Homo sapiens: one gene and its partners. The protein of the gene in region 1 purifies or fractionates together with the protein of each later gene. This does not show direct contact. Each region holds a gene or a part of one and is shown in the gene's direction. Other genes may lie near its edges.

Evidence for each region.
Region 2: the proteins of LRRC52 (region 1) and TMEM219 purify together in Homo sapiens (affinity purification with mass spectrometry; one large-scale study listed by BioGRID and IntAct). This does not show direct contact.
Region 3: the proteins of LRRC52 (region 1) and TMEM59L purify together in Homo sapiens (affinity purification with mass spectrometry; one large-scale study listed by BioGRID and IntAct). This does not show direct contact.
Region 4: the proteins of LRRC52 (region 1) and TMEM59 purify together in Homo sapiens (co-immunoprecipitation; one large-scale study listed by IntAct). This does not show direct contact.

The regions. Positions count from the first base shown.
Region 1 is NC_000001.11:165,550,500-165,553,999, forward strand, and holds part of LRRC52 (leucine-rich repeat-containing protein 52 precursor), read left to right. Parts: intron 1-3,500. UniProt on the Homo sapiens protein: Auxiliary protein of the large-conductance, voltage and calcium-activated potassium channel (BK alpha).
Region 2 is NC_000016.10:29,968,579-29,972,078, forward strand, and holds part of TMEM219 (insulin-like growth factor-binding protein 3 receptor isoform 1 precursor), read left to right. Parts: intron 1-2,829; coding exon 2,830-2,967; 3' UTR 2,968-3,000; intron 3,001-3,463; exon of another isoform or gene 3,464-3,500. UniProt on the Homo sapiens protein: Cell death receptor specific for IGFBP3, may mediate caspase-8-dependent apoptosis upon ligand binding.
Region 3 is NC_000019.10:18,615,870-18,618,704, forward strand, and holds part of TMEM59L (transmembrane protein 59-like precursor), read left to right. Parts: intron 1-105; coding exon 106-258; intron 259-1,130; coding exon 1,131-1,233; intron 1,234-2,285; coding exon 2,286-2,403; intron 2,404-2,505; coding exon 2,506-2,623; intron 2,624-2,835. UniProt on the Homo sapiens protein: Modulates the O-glycosylation and complex N-glycosylation steps occurring during the Golgi maturation of APP. Inhibits APP transport to the cell surface and further shedding.
Region 4 is NC_000001.11:54,039,705-54,043,204, reverse strand, and holds part of TMEM59 (transmembrane protein 59 isoform 2 precursor), read left to right. Parts: intron 1-1,399; coding exon 1,400-1,481; intron 1,482-2,364; coding exon of another isoform or gene 2,365-2,367; coding exon 2,368-2,449; intron 2,450-3,500.

The DNA.
Region 1 (3,500 bases):
CCATACTGGTTAGGGTAGCCTTTTAACATAGGATGTTTAAGCTGGAACTTTAGAATCCAGAGTCACAGGTAAGTGGCTATAGAGAAAAGCCCAGCACAGAGATATCCTGACATCCAAGTTCAATGTTTTTCCCTGATGCCATGATATTTCTTTGCTGTCAAGCACATCATGATCCATTTAACTCTGAAACATTTATTGTATATTCATTATGTCCCCAACATTGCATTATAATGCTGGGGTGGCTGTTTCACCGAGAAAAAAAGTCATAATTTTTGTCTTGAATAAGATAATCTAGGATACGAGAAACAGAAAATAGAATTGAAAGCCAGGAAGCCCTGTCTTGATCCCAGAAATGCCACTGTGTGATATGGGGAAACTCACTTTCCTTCTTCAAGAGTCACTTTTCTTGTCCTTAAAATAAAGGATTTGGGTTAGAGATCCTCAAAGGCCTCCTATAGCTGGTAGCCTATGGACCTAAATAGAAAGATAAGCACACAGGAGGTGAGAGGAGAACAGCGCTCAGCAGGCAAGGTCCCAGGTGAGCAAGTGCAGAGTGGCAAGTGCTGAGGCGAAGGTGTTCCCAGTGATGAGGGCTACATCACATAATTAGGAAGTTCATTTAAGAAACAGATGCCTCTAACTCCTGTACTCTCCCACCTCCTATATTAAGCACCCTCAACTTCACTAAAACAATGCCTCCACCCCAAGAAACTCATTGCCCCAGACTTTCCTCCCAGGCCAGACCTGCTCAAACAGTGCTTCTCAAACTCTAATGAGCACAAGAATCCCAGGTCCTATGCCCTGAGGTTCTGATTCAGTCAACTCTTCATGCCGGTTGTCCTTAGGCCACTTTTCAGAAACCCTAGAACAGTGGCCTGTGTTCTGGACCTTCAGTGGCTGTTCCAATTAGTAAATGAATCGATTTGCTCTGAGATGCTAATGGCTAGTGTTTTGAAATATCCCCTCAGGGAGCATTTGCAATTTGACAGGGAACAACCAGAAACAGTGAGAATTCAGAAAGTGACAGGCTACCAGGGGCTAGAGTGGGGCGGTTTGAGGACAGAGAGTCCCCTCTGTGTCAGCTCTGATAGCCTTAGCCAGTACTAAATGAGCCTGATGGTGGGGCCCACACATCAGAGGAGCTTGAGCAAGGGTGCTGCAGAGGCAGTGGACAAAGCCACTCAGGGCCATCTGCAGGGAGCAGATGGGTTGAGTCATGTGCTGCTTCAGGTCCAAGTCATTTTGAGGGCGTTTTGAGCAGAGAACATCTTAGTTTCATTACGAGGTTATATCATCCTGTATTCAAGACTGTTGTAATGGGATAATGGCCCCATTTCTACCTACCAAGTACAAAGTCATCCACAACTGTGCCCAAACTTAGATTTCCGGAATGAATTCAGGTCCTCACGTTATTCCACTATCAATGCTTACCCATGTCCTCCATCAGGGAAATTAAAATAAAGACCAAAGGCTAAAAAAGAAAAAAAAAAAAAAAAGGCTGGGCAACCAGCAGCTCCAAGGCTTCCAAGGCTGTTGAAAGCCAGAACAGCAGCCTCCTGAGGGCAAGGAGGGGGCTGAGAGGGGTGCAACTGAGTCAGTGATCCCTAAGCCACCCAGAAAATCCAAGAAGGGATAGGAGCAGCAAGCATGGGACATTTAGGAACCCCTGGGTGATGCTGACACACTCCCTGACTCAGGCCAATTGGGATCCCTGAGAGTAGGTGATCGAAGGTTACTCCAAGCTCAGAAATGCCAGATTTCTACACCTGGCCCCTCAGGTCACCCAGCATCACTCAGGACTCTGAAAAACAGCAGTTCAAGTCTGGCTAAAGCAGCCAACCTCAGTTTGCTCATCTTTAAAGGTGAAGAGCTCCTCATCCTGGAGGTAATCCTACAAAGGATGGATGTGGCTAGAGAAAAGAATGGGGGCCCAGCTAGGAAGGGCCTTGAATGGTTTTCTGGGGAACATGCAATATATCCTAAGAAGTCTTGGGAGGCAAGTGAGCTGGAGGTAAGGCTAGGAAGGAAGCTCCCGTAGGCGTTCAAGCCAGACAGTATGGCAGCCTATGGCAACAGTGAGGAGGAGAGGTGTAGACATTTGAGAAGGAATCATTTAGAAGGCAGAAGCAACAGGATTTGGGACTGAACTAGCTCCTCTCATAGTTTCTTGTGCACCCTTTGTAACTTCTGGCACAATTCTAATTAATAAATGTGTATTCATTTAACATTTGTCTTCCCTGATAGACCGGAAGCTCTATGACAGCAGATCTGGATCTTCGGAAACAAGCACAGGCCTGACACAGAGAAAATGCTCAACTAGTGTTTCCTGAGTGAATGAATGAGATACAGAAAATATAGAAAAGGGAAAAATCAATGGTAGCTCCCAAGACTTTGGCTTGGACAGTGTGGGGGCTTTGCTGACATAAACACACTTGGAGGAGGGCAGTGAGGAAGTCAGGCTAGAAGTCAAGTCCCATCTTGACCTTACTGAGTGGGAAGTCCCTGTAAAACACTAGGCATTTGTATGTTCTGACCTGAAATTCAGAATAGAGGACAGGGCATAAAATATACATATATTTGGGGATCATCAACTTACTAGTGATCACTGAAACCTAACAGAAGATGAGATCAATCAGGAAAAAGAGTTTCAAGTGAGGATAATAAGGGCCAAGTACAGAAGCTTTGGGGAATGCAACATACTAAAGGGTCAAGTAAGAAAGAGCAACTCATGTAGGACAGCAGGAGCCCCCAGACAAAGGAAATTAGAACAGGATAAATTCATGGAAGCCAAAGAGTTCCAAAAAGTGGGAGCAGGTCAGATAAGGACAGAAAACTGTCCATCAGATTTAGCACCAGGGATCCCTGATGTCTTGGGCAGTTCTGCTGGCATGATGAGAGTGAACACCAATCCATAATGGGCTATGAACTGAACATAAAAGGTGTGAAGGAGTAAACCATGTAAACTACTCTTCTAGAAAGCATGGCTGTGGACTGAAGGGAATAGGGTGCTAGTTGGAGAGAAAACAAATGAAGAAGGAGGATTTTTAGGAGAAAAGAGATCCAACCATGTGTTTATCTGCTGATGGAAAGAGTCGATGCAGAGAAAAAGGACAAAGATACAAGAAAGAGGGGAAGTCATTGGTGGGGTAAAGTCCCTGAGAGGACAGAAATGGATGGATGATCTCCAAGGGGTAATCCTTGAAAGGGGAGTGGCACCCCCTCTGCCCTCTGGGACTGCAGAGAAGGAGGCGAGGGTAAACATAGATGGGGGTGACTGTAATAACAGGGGACAAATACAATTGAGGGGCCCAATTGGTGCCTGTATTTCTCTTTCAGTGAGGTGAAAGACAAAAAATGACTATATATCTATAAAGTACACATTTTCATGTAATGTTTTCTATGAAGCTTCCATAACACCAATCCAATTAGGCGACTATAAAATATCCATTGTCCTTGAGATGCTCACATCCTAGTTGAGCAGGCAACACCAAGGTGGGCTG
Region 2 (3,500 bases), on another chromosome or scaffold:
TCTCTACTTCAAAGGAGTTCAGAAGCTATAATAAGAGGCAAATGGGCTAATTGCTATTAGAGAGATGTGAGCAAAGTGTTATGCAAACACAGAGAAAGGAGCCATTAACCCTAACTTGAACATTTATGGAGAGTGCATCACAGAGAAGGTGGCATTTACCAGAGAGCATTGTGCACAGTGGTTTATAATGCACAAAGTGCTCTCAGGGTTCATTAATTCATTTGATCTTAAAATAGCCTTTTGAGGTAGGTGTTATTATCCCATTTTACAGATGAGGAAACAGGTTTAGAGAAAGGGAGTGAATTGCTGCAGGCCACACAACTGGTTAAGTGGCAGAGCCAGGGTTGCAACCCACACCTTCTGTCAAGTCAGAATGATCCTTGAAGAATGAGGAAGATTTGGACAGGGACTGCAGTAGAGGAGGTTCAGGAGAGGGGGAGGTACACTCCAGGCAAAGGCACCAGCATGCGCACAGGCCTAGAGATTGAAAAGTGTTCAGCCAGGTGTCACATCTGTAATCCCAGCACTTTGGAAGGCCGAAGCAAGGAGAATGCCTGAGGCCAGGAGTTCCAGACCAGCCTGGAGAACATAGCAAGACCTCGTTTCTTTTTCGCTTTTTTTTTTTTTTTTTTTTTTGAGACGGAGTCTCACTCTGTTACCCAGGCTGGGGTGCAGTGGCACAATCTCGGCTCACTGCAAGCTCCACCTCACAGGTTCATGCCATTCTCCTGCCTCAGGCTCCCGAGTAGCTGGGACTACAGGCGCCTGCCACCATGCCCGGCTAATTTTTGTATTTTTAGTAGAGACAGGGTTTCACCTTGTTAGCCAGGATGATCTCAATCTCCTGACCTCGTGATCCACCCACCTCAGCCTCCCAAAGTGCTGGGATTACAGGTGTGAGCCACTGCGCCTGGCGACCCCATTTCTTAAAAAAAACATTTTTTTTTTTAATTAGCAGGGTGTGGTGGTACACACCTATAGTCCCAGCTACTCAGGAGGCTGAGGTGGGAGGATCCTTTGATCCCAGGAGTTTGAGGCTGCAGTGAGCCATGATTGTGCCACTGCACTCCAGCCTGGTTGCCAGAGTGAGACCCTGTCTCAAGAAGGAAAAAAAAAGAAAGTGTTCAGCCTTTGGGAGCACTCCATGTTGAGAGGCTTAGGAAGGAGAAAAGGCAAGAGAGACCACAGGGATTTGATGGAGAGGCTCTGTGAATGCAGGATAGAGGGCTATGACCTGATGCTGAAGGCCGTGGGGGCCACTGAGGAGTTTTAAGGAGGAGAGAGATGTGCTTCCCTGGTGCTGGGTGGAGAATGGCTGAGTGGAGGAGGGCCATCAGTCAGGAGGCTGCTGCACACTCCACTCTCACATTTGAAAATACCCCATGAGGCACGGTGGCTCACGCCTGTAATCCCAGCACTTTGGGAGGCCAAGGCCGGTGGATCACTTGAGGTCAGGACCAGCCTGGCCAACATGGTGAAACCCCATCTCTACTAAAAATTTAAAAATTAGCTGGATGTTGTGGCGGGCGTCTGTGATCCCAGCTACTCAGGAGGCTGAGGCAGGAGAATCTCTGGAACCTGGGAGGCAGAGGTTGTAGTGAGCTGAGATCATGCCACTGCACTCCAGCCTGGGCAACAGAGTGAGACTCCGTCTCAAATAAAGAAAAAAAGAAAAGACCCCATGAGGAGCACAACCTGGGACTTGGAATCAGAGATCTGGTTTCCAGATCTAGCACTGCTTGCACTTTTTTTTTTTTTTTTTTTGAGATGGAGTCTTGCTCTATCGCCCAGGCGGGAGTGCAGTGGCGCAATCTCAGCTTACTGCAAGCTCCGCCTCCCAGGTTCACGCCATTCTCCTGCCTCAGCCTCCCAAGTAGCTGGGACTACAGGCGCCCGCCACCATGCCCGGCTAAGTTTTTGTATTTTTAGTAGAGATGGGGTTTCACTGTGTTAGCCAGGATGGTCTCAATCTCCTGACCTCGTGATCCACCCACCTCGGCCTCTCAAAGTGCTGGGATTACAGGTGTGAGCCACCGCACCCAGCCACTTATACATCTTTAAACTGTGGATCATAATGAAGTTTCCTATCTCATGGAGTTATGATGGGGTTTCAGGTTGATAATTGGGCAAGAAAGTAGTTTTTAAACCATCAAGACAAATGTTCGAGCCTGGGCAACATGGTGAAACCCCATCTCTACAAAAAAACACACAAAAAATTAGCTGGGCGTGGTGGCACACACCTGTGGTCCCAGCTACTCAGGAGGCTGAGGTGGGAAGATCGCTGGAGCCCAGGAGGCGGAGGTTGCAGTGAGCCGAGATTGCACTACTGCACTCCAGCCTGAGTTACAGAGTGAGACCCTGCCTCAAAAAGAAAAAAAAAAAAAAGGGCCAGGCGCGGTGTTTCACGCCTGTAATCCCAGCACTTTGGGAGGCCGAGGTGGGCGGATCATGAGGTCAGGAGATCAAGACCATCCTGGCTAACACGGTGAAACCCCGTCTCTACTAAAAATACAAAAAATGAGCCAGGCGTGGTGGCGGGCACCTGTAGTCCCAGCTACTTGGGAGGCTGAGGCAGGAGAATGGCGTGAACCCAGGAGGCGGAGCTTGCAGTGAGCTGAGATCGCGCCACTGCACTCTAGCCTGGGCGACAGAGCAAGACTCCATCTCAAAAAAAAAAAAAAAAGACAAATGTCAGCTTATATGAAAATAACATTTTCCCTTCAGTTGCTCCCTAGATGTGGAGAGCCCTCTCCCTCATGGAGGCTCCTTCTATAGCCCTTGGACTGGATTAACATGTCCTCCTCCTCCTCTCCCTGTACCCCTCCCTAGGAGGAGCTGGCTCTGTGTGGCTCCAGGCTGCTGGTCTTGGGCTCCTTCCTGCTTCTCTTCTGTGGCCTTCTCTGCTGTGTCACTGCTATGTGCTTCCACCCGCGCCGGGAGTCCCACTGGTCTAGAACCCGGCTCTGAGGGCACTGGCCTAGTTCCCGACTTGTTTCTCAGGTGAGGTTCTTTGCTCCAGTCCTGCGGGAGCAGGGAATGGGGTGGGGGTGGGGGTTGTAACCGGGGTAGAGCAGATCCTTGGACTTTTCCTCAAAGACTGCTGCTTCTGAGTCCCCGAGAACCTCTTCAACCACAGCTCTCCCTTAGGGACTGGGAACAATTTGACACCGTCAGCATTCAATATTTTTCTAATTACTTTAACTTTTTTATTATAAAATAGTTAACACTTATGTAGAAAAGTCCAATAGTATAAAAGGACAGCTTGGCAAATTATTATAAAGTGGATACTTATAAATACCACTGAGTAGAATATTACCAGCTGTCCAGAAACCCCCCATGGTCCCTTCCTTCCTGACAATGCCCTCTCTCTCCCTAGAAATTACTGTCCTGCTTTATAATGTATTGCCATGTATGTATTCCTAAATAATATAGTTTGGTTTTACTTATTTTTGAAACTATGTAGACAGAATCATACACATTCTTTTGTGGCTGACTTCTTT
Region 3 (2,835 bases), on another chromosome or scaffold:
AGTGTTGGGATTACAGGCGTGAGCCACCACATCCTGCCCCCTCCCATTCATTGGTTAATGCCCTATTTCGGTGCCATCTTTGTGTCTTGGACCTTTTTTCACCAGAGAAAGGTCCTGGAGGCTCCAAGTGGGGCCCTCTCCCTCTTGGACTTGTTTTCCACCCTCTGCAATGACCTTGTCAACTCAGCCCAGGGATTTGTCTCCTCCACCTGGACATACTACTTGCAGACTGACAATGGGAAAGTGGTGGTGTTTCAGGTGAGACCTCTGACAGGGGCCACGCCAGAGTGGCAGATGGGTGGGCAGGGTAAGAAGATGGGATGCATTGGCTCTTAGCTCATGAGATGCAAAGTCCACAGTGGGCGAGCTTCAGGCACAGCTGGATCCAGGGGCTCAGTGTCTCACTCCATGCCTTGACTCTGCTTTCTTTTGTGGTGGCTTCATTCCCAGGCATTTACTTCTTCTTGGCAGTAAGGTGGATGCCAGAGGCTCTAGGTTACAAACGCTGTGGTTTTTTTTTGTTGTTGTTGTTGTTGTTTTGAGATGGACTCCCATTCTTGTTGCCCAAGATGGAGTGCAATGGCATGATCTTAGCTCACTGCAACCTCCACCTCCCAGGTTCAAGTGATTCTCCTGCTTCAGCCTCCTGAGTAGCTGGGATTACAGGCGGCCACCACCACACCCACCTAATTTTTGTATTTTTAGTGGAGACGGGGTTTCGCCATGTTGGCCAGGCTGGTCTCGAACTCCTGACCTCAGGTGTTTCACCTGCCTCGGCCTCCCAAAGTGCTGGGATTACAGGCATGAGCCACTGCCCCGGCTCCCTCTGGGGTTTTAACTGAGCTGGGATTTACTCTGATTGGCCCTGGCTGGATCATATGACCATCTCTCAGGCAATTCACTGGCTTGGTCTGGATCATGTTCCTACTTCTGGAGCTAAAGGATGGGGTTAAGGCAAATGGAGGAGCCCATGAAAGCAGAAAACAACATCCCTGACATCAAGCCCACCCCTGATACCCAGGGGAACTGGGTATCAGCTGGGCGTGGGACATGGCAGTCACAGAGGGCCTGCCTGGGCCCAGGGGTGCTGTTCTCACAAGCCTCTCTGTGCTGTCTTGTTCCTGGCCCAGACTCAGCCCATAGTGGAGAGCCTCGGCTTCCAGGGGGGCCGTCTGCAGCGCGTGGAGGTGACCTGGCGAGGCTCCCACCCTGAAGCCCTGGAGGTGCACGTGGGTAAGGTGCAACCTAGACCAGTGTTCCTTCCATGGGTGGCCCCACTGCCACAAGGAGTCGGCCTGGCAAACAGACCTTCTAGGATCGGGATCTCCATCTCTCAAGTCCTGGGTTCCATGGCTCATCCCCCAGGTCTCCATGGTCTATTTCCCAGGGTTCCATGGTCCACCTCCCAGGGTTCCATGGTCCACTTCTCAGGGTTCCGTGGTCTACTTCCCAGGGTTCCGTGGTCCATCTCCCCGGGTTCCATGGTCTATTTACCAGGGATCCGTGGTCCACCTCTCAGGGTTCCGTGGCCCACCTCCCGGGTTCCGTGGCCACCTCCCAGGGTTCCGTGTTCCGCCTCCCAGCGTTCTGTGGTCCACCTCCCAGGGATCCATGGTTCACTTTCCAGGGTTCTGTGGCCCATCTCCCTGGGTTCTGTGGCCCATCTCCCAGGGTTCCATGGTTCATCTCTCAGAGTTCCATGGGTTCATCTCCTAGGGTCATCTCCTAGGGTCCATCTCCAAGGGTTCTTTGGTCCATCTCTCAGGGTTCCATGGTTCATCTCTTAGGATTCTGCAGTTCATCTCCCAGGGTTCTGTGGCCCATCCCCCAGGGTTCTGCAGTCCATCTCCCAGGGTTCCATGGTCCATTTCCCAGGGTTCCATGTTCCATCTCCCAGGGTTCCATGTTCCATCTCCCAGGGTTCCATGGGTTCATCTCCTAAGGGTCATCTCCTAGGATCCATCTCCCAGGGTTCCATGGGTTCATCTTCTAGGGTCATCTCCTAGGGTCCATCTCCTAGAGTTCTTTGGTCTATCTCTCAGGGTTCCATGGTTCATCTCCTAGGATTCTGCAGTTCACCCCCAGGGTTGCATGGTTCATCTCCTAGGATCCATCTCCCAGGGTTCCATGGTCCCTGTCTCAGCATTCTGTGGTCCATCTCCCAGGGCTCTGATCTCCATTCCAGGACTCTATGCCCCAGGTCCTGACCTCCTCCCTCCTGGTCATGGTTATTGTGGCCTCTTAGCAAAGACCTGGTGGTCGCTGAGTGGCAGCTGATCTCTCAGACCCTGTAGGCCCCCTGGACAAGGTGAGGAAGGCCAAGATCCGAGTCAAGACCAGCAGCAAGGCCAAGGTGGAGTCTGAAGAGCCACAGGACAATGACTTCCTCAGTTGCATGTCCCGGTGGGTGGCAGGACCTTGGGGGTGGGAGGGGGGTGGGACTGGAGGTACGGGTCTCCCTGGTCCCGGCCTGGGCAGCTGAGTGGTGCCTGCCGGGCGGGGCAGGCGCTCGGGTCTGCCTCGCTGGATCCTGGCCTGCTGCCTCTTCCTCTCCGTGCTGGTGATGCTGTGGCTGAGCTGCTCCACCCTGGTGACCGCGCCTGGCCAGCACCTCAAGTTCCAGGTGGGTGGGATCTGTGAATGGCGCTGGGCCGAGGGAGGGGGTGAAGGCAGAGAGAGCTGTTTGCTGGTCCTGGATTTGGCCACCTGCTCCCATGGAGGCCAGGACCTCAGACATTTTTTTCTTTTTTCATGTATATACATATATATACATATACGTGTGTGTGTGTGTGTGTGTGTGTGTGTATATATATATATATAATATATATATATATA
Region 4 (3,500 bases), about 110 Mb from region 1:
CCCTTCCCTTTGCCCGTTAGAAGCCTAATCTAAAGCCCATTAGTTTTTATGTAACCAGAACTCTTGAGTCTTTTAAATTTTATGGTGGTTAAATTGATAAAATGAAATTTTTAAATATGAGAGACAATAATTAATATACTTCGAACATAAATAGTGGCCATATATGATTACATATGGATATCAGATAAAAGCAATATGACATAATTTTTAGTTTTTTACAGTGCTTTTACTCATGACTCTAATAAGAGAACTTGTTGAAGAAGTATTTTGCCTAGAGAAGTAATGTCTCCTATCTCATCGTTTACCACATGATAATAACTGTTATTCCCTGGAGGTTATATTGTGCTAGATATATTCTCTCACATCTTCAAACAACTTTATGAGGTTGTATTATTCCTGTTTTATTATGAGGAAGGTGAGAGTAACTTGTTGCAGTTTCACGGCCAATAAGTAACAGAATTAAGCTTCAAACCCAGGGCACTTTAGCACCAAGGCCCATATACTACCCTACCATGCTTTTAATTCAGTAGTTGAATTCCTCAAATTTACCAGTCAACAGAGTTTATGTTGTGGCACTGTCTTCCTCTCAGGTAATAAAGTAAACCTTTTAAGTACTGTAGCTAAGTAAGTGGCTTAATGTATGGCTGGTATGTGATTTTTAGCACTCCCCTGAACCTTGGGTCCCCTCTACTTAATTTGGTAATAAGTAAAACACAGGAATTTTCTCTTTAAATTCATGAACAAGTTCTAGGTCCTAAAGCTACTTACCTCAAGGCATAAGTTGACTCTCAGAGTGAAGCCCTCATTCATTCCTCATTAGATAGGAGATTAGCTCTGTGTCTCTCTAAAGTCTGTGTGAATTTGAGCATAACTGGGATGCAGAAACCCCCATTCTAGAGGATCAGAACTATACACAAGATGTAAAAAGTATGGAGTGTTTGGCTGTAATTTATGGATTCCTCATACTTAGGGAAGAATATAATGTTTCATATGAGAATAAATAGAGATAATGTGTATTTAGCCAAAAGTTTTGGCAGTCTGATAAATTATTCCTGATCAACTAGAATTAGAACTCATTTCTGCAAGGTATAGTATTTAATGTAGTATGTCATGATTTGTCCCTCTCTCCCTTTAAAAAAAAAAAAAAACAAAACAAAACGTTGTCAGGAAGTTAAACTAACATAAATCTGCCAGAAATCTGTTTCTTTGCAAGGCACTGGCTCTGATGTTTAGGAAGTGCAATTAAAATATATTGTGGTTAATGTGTTTTATTTTTTATACAGTATTTCTGCTACTTTTTCTCAATTTAAATGTTTAAAGAGATGATTTGTTTTAGAACTTGTTACTGAAAAAAGCTAAAGAAGTACAAATGACTTAATTGCTTTCATTATTATTTTAGTCTAAGCCAGAAATCCAGTACGCACCACATTTGGAGCAGGAGCCTACAAATTTGAGAGAATCATCTCTAAGCAAAATGTCCTGTAAGTTTTATTTTAAGTAGCTTAGATAAAAACATTAGCAGTCAAATCTGGTTGTAGTAGAGTTGGTCATGTTTGTTTTTACACTGATGGAACATAAACAGATAATTTCTAAAACAGTGGTTCTCAAACTTTCATGTGTATTACAGTTTGGAGAGCTTGTTCAAACACAGATTGCTGGGCCCTACCTCCAGAGTTTCTAATTTACTAGGTCTGGGAGAAGATCTGAGAATTTGTATTTCTCACAAGTTCCAGATTTTGCTGATGCTGCTGGCCTGGGGGCCACACTTTGAAAATCACTATTCTAAAAACATTTAGTTTGCTTCAAAGGATGTTTTGAGCATGAACTAATCAAATATTCTGGTATTTCCCAATAAATTGATCAAATAATGAAAAATGCCAAAAGTGAGAGTCCCCATTCTATTTTTATTTCCATGTTAGAAGTGAATTTTGACTTATAAGAACATAAAACATCAAGCTAAAGCAGAACTCACCTTGTGAAATTTCCTCATACCTTATTTTAGATACTGATTTAATTAGCCTTCTAATTATTTTGGTGGGTGGGAGTGGGTAGATAATGATAGCACATAACATAAGACCATCTTTAACTTTAATTAGATTAGAATAAACCAAATCCAAGCTCACATGTAATTAAGCAGAAAGCATCAATGTCAATAAGAATTTGAAAATAAAACAGGAAACTCATAATGTGATAGAATATTCATTTGGTTTTGATGTGCTAGAGAAACTGGTACACATTATAAAATGTATCAGATGACACAAACAAAAACAATTGGATATCTGTAAAGTGTATATATCTAGAAGTAGTCATGTGAGACTAGCTTTTGGAATATAGGATATAATAAACTCATACTTACTATTTCAGCAGATCTGCAAATGAGAAATTCACAAGCGCACAGGAATTTTCTTGAAGATGGAGAAAGTGATGGCTTTTTAAGATGCCTCTCTCTGTATGTATTCCTCTTTATTATGTGTATAACAGATAAAATCTGGCTTGTATCAGAGAGATATATTACTTTTTATTATTTTAAAATTAGCACCTCAAAAGTAAACCTTTTTACTTGTTCCTTTCCAAAGTTGTACATTAGATATTTTAGTTTGTTTAAAAGGTTGTAGGCATACTACTTGAATAAAACCCAGGCAGGTAGTTTTTTTCACAGTACAAGAGCATTTTTCTTGTTAGAATCTCTTGATTTATGTTGAATGTGCTTCTCCACACATTTAAATTAAGCTTTAATTTAACATATGTCTGAGGCCGGGCACAGTGGCTCATGCCTGTAATCCCAGCACTTTAGGAGGCCAAGGCGGGTGGATCGCCTGAGGTCAGGAGTTCGAGACCAGCCTGGCCAACATGGCGACACCCCATCTCTACTGAAAATACAAAAATTAGCCGGGCGTGGTGGTGCATGCCTGTAATCCCAGCTACTTAGGAGGATGAGGCAGGAGAATCGTTTGAACCTGGAAGGCAGAGGTTGCAGTGAGCTGAGATCACGCCACAGCACTCCAGCCTAGGTAACAGAGTGAGACTCTGTCTCAAAAAATAAAATAAATAAAATAAGTATGTTTGAATGGTTTAGGGATCAGATTTTTGTTTTTGTTTTTATCTGCATGGCCAGATTTGACGCTAGAAGAGCTGGATAAAGACTCTAGATTAAGAAGGGCTTTGTATTCTATACTAAGGAATATCAGCTCTATGCCAAGAGTTTTTAAGGGTAATGGTAAAGTGGGCAAGTGAGAGTAGGGGTACCATATGCCCTCCTAGGAAAAAATATCAAGCCTTATGAGGGTGAGAGGCAGGTTTTATGAAAGTGTGCATGTTTCCTCTTCTCCAAGGAGTTCAGATATGGTCCCTCCCCCACATTTTACTCCTCCCCACCCCCAACAAAAAAAGGAAAAAGAGAAAGATAGTGGGCCATACCACTTATTGACTATCACCTACTCGGTGTCAGATACCAGGTCAAGCATTTCAGTGAGTGGTAAACAAGTTTCTGCTTTATAGTG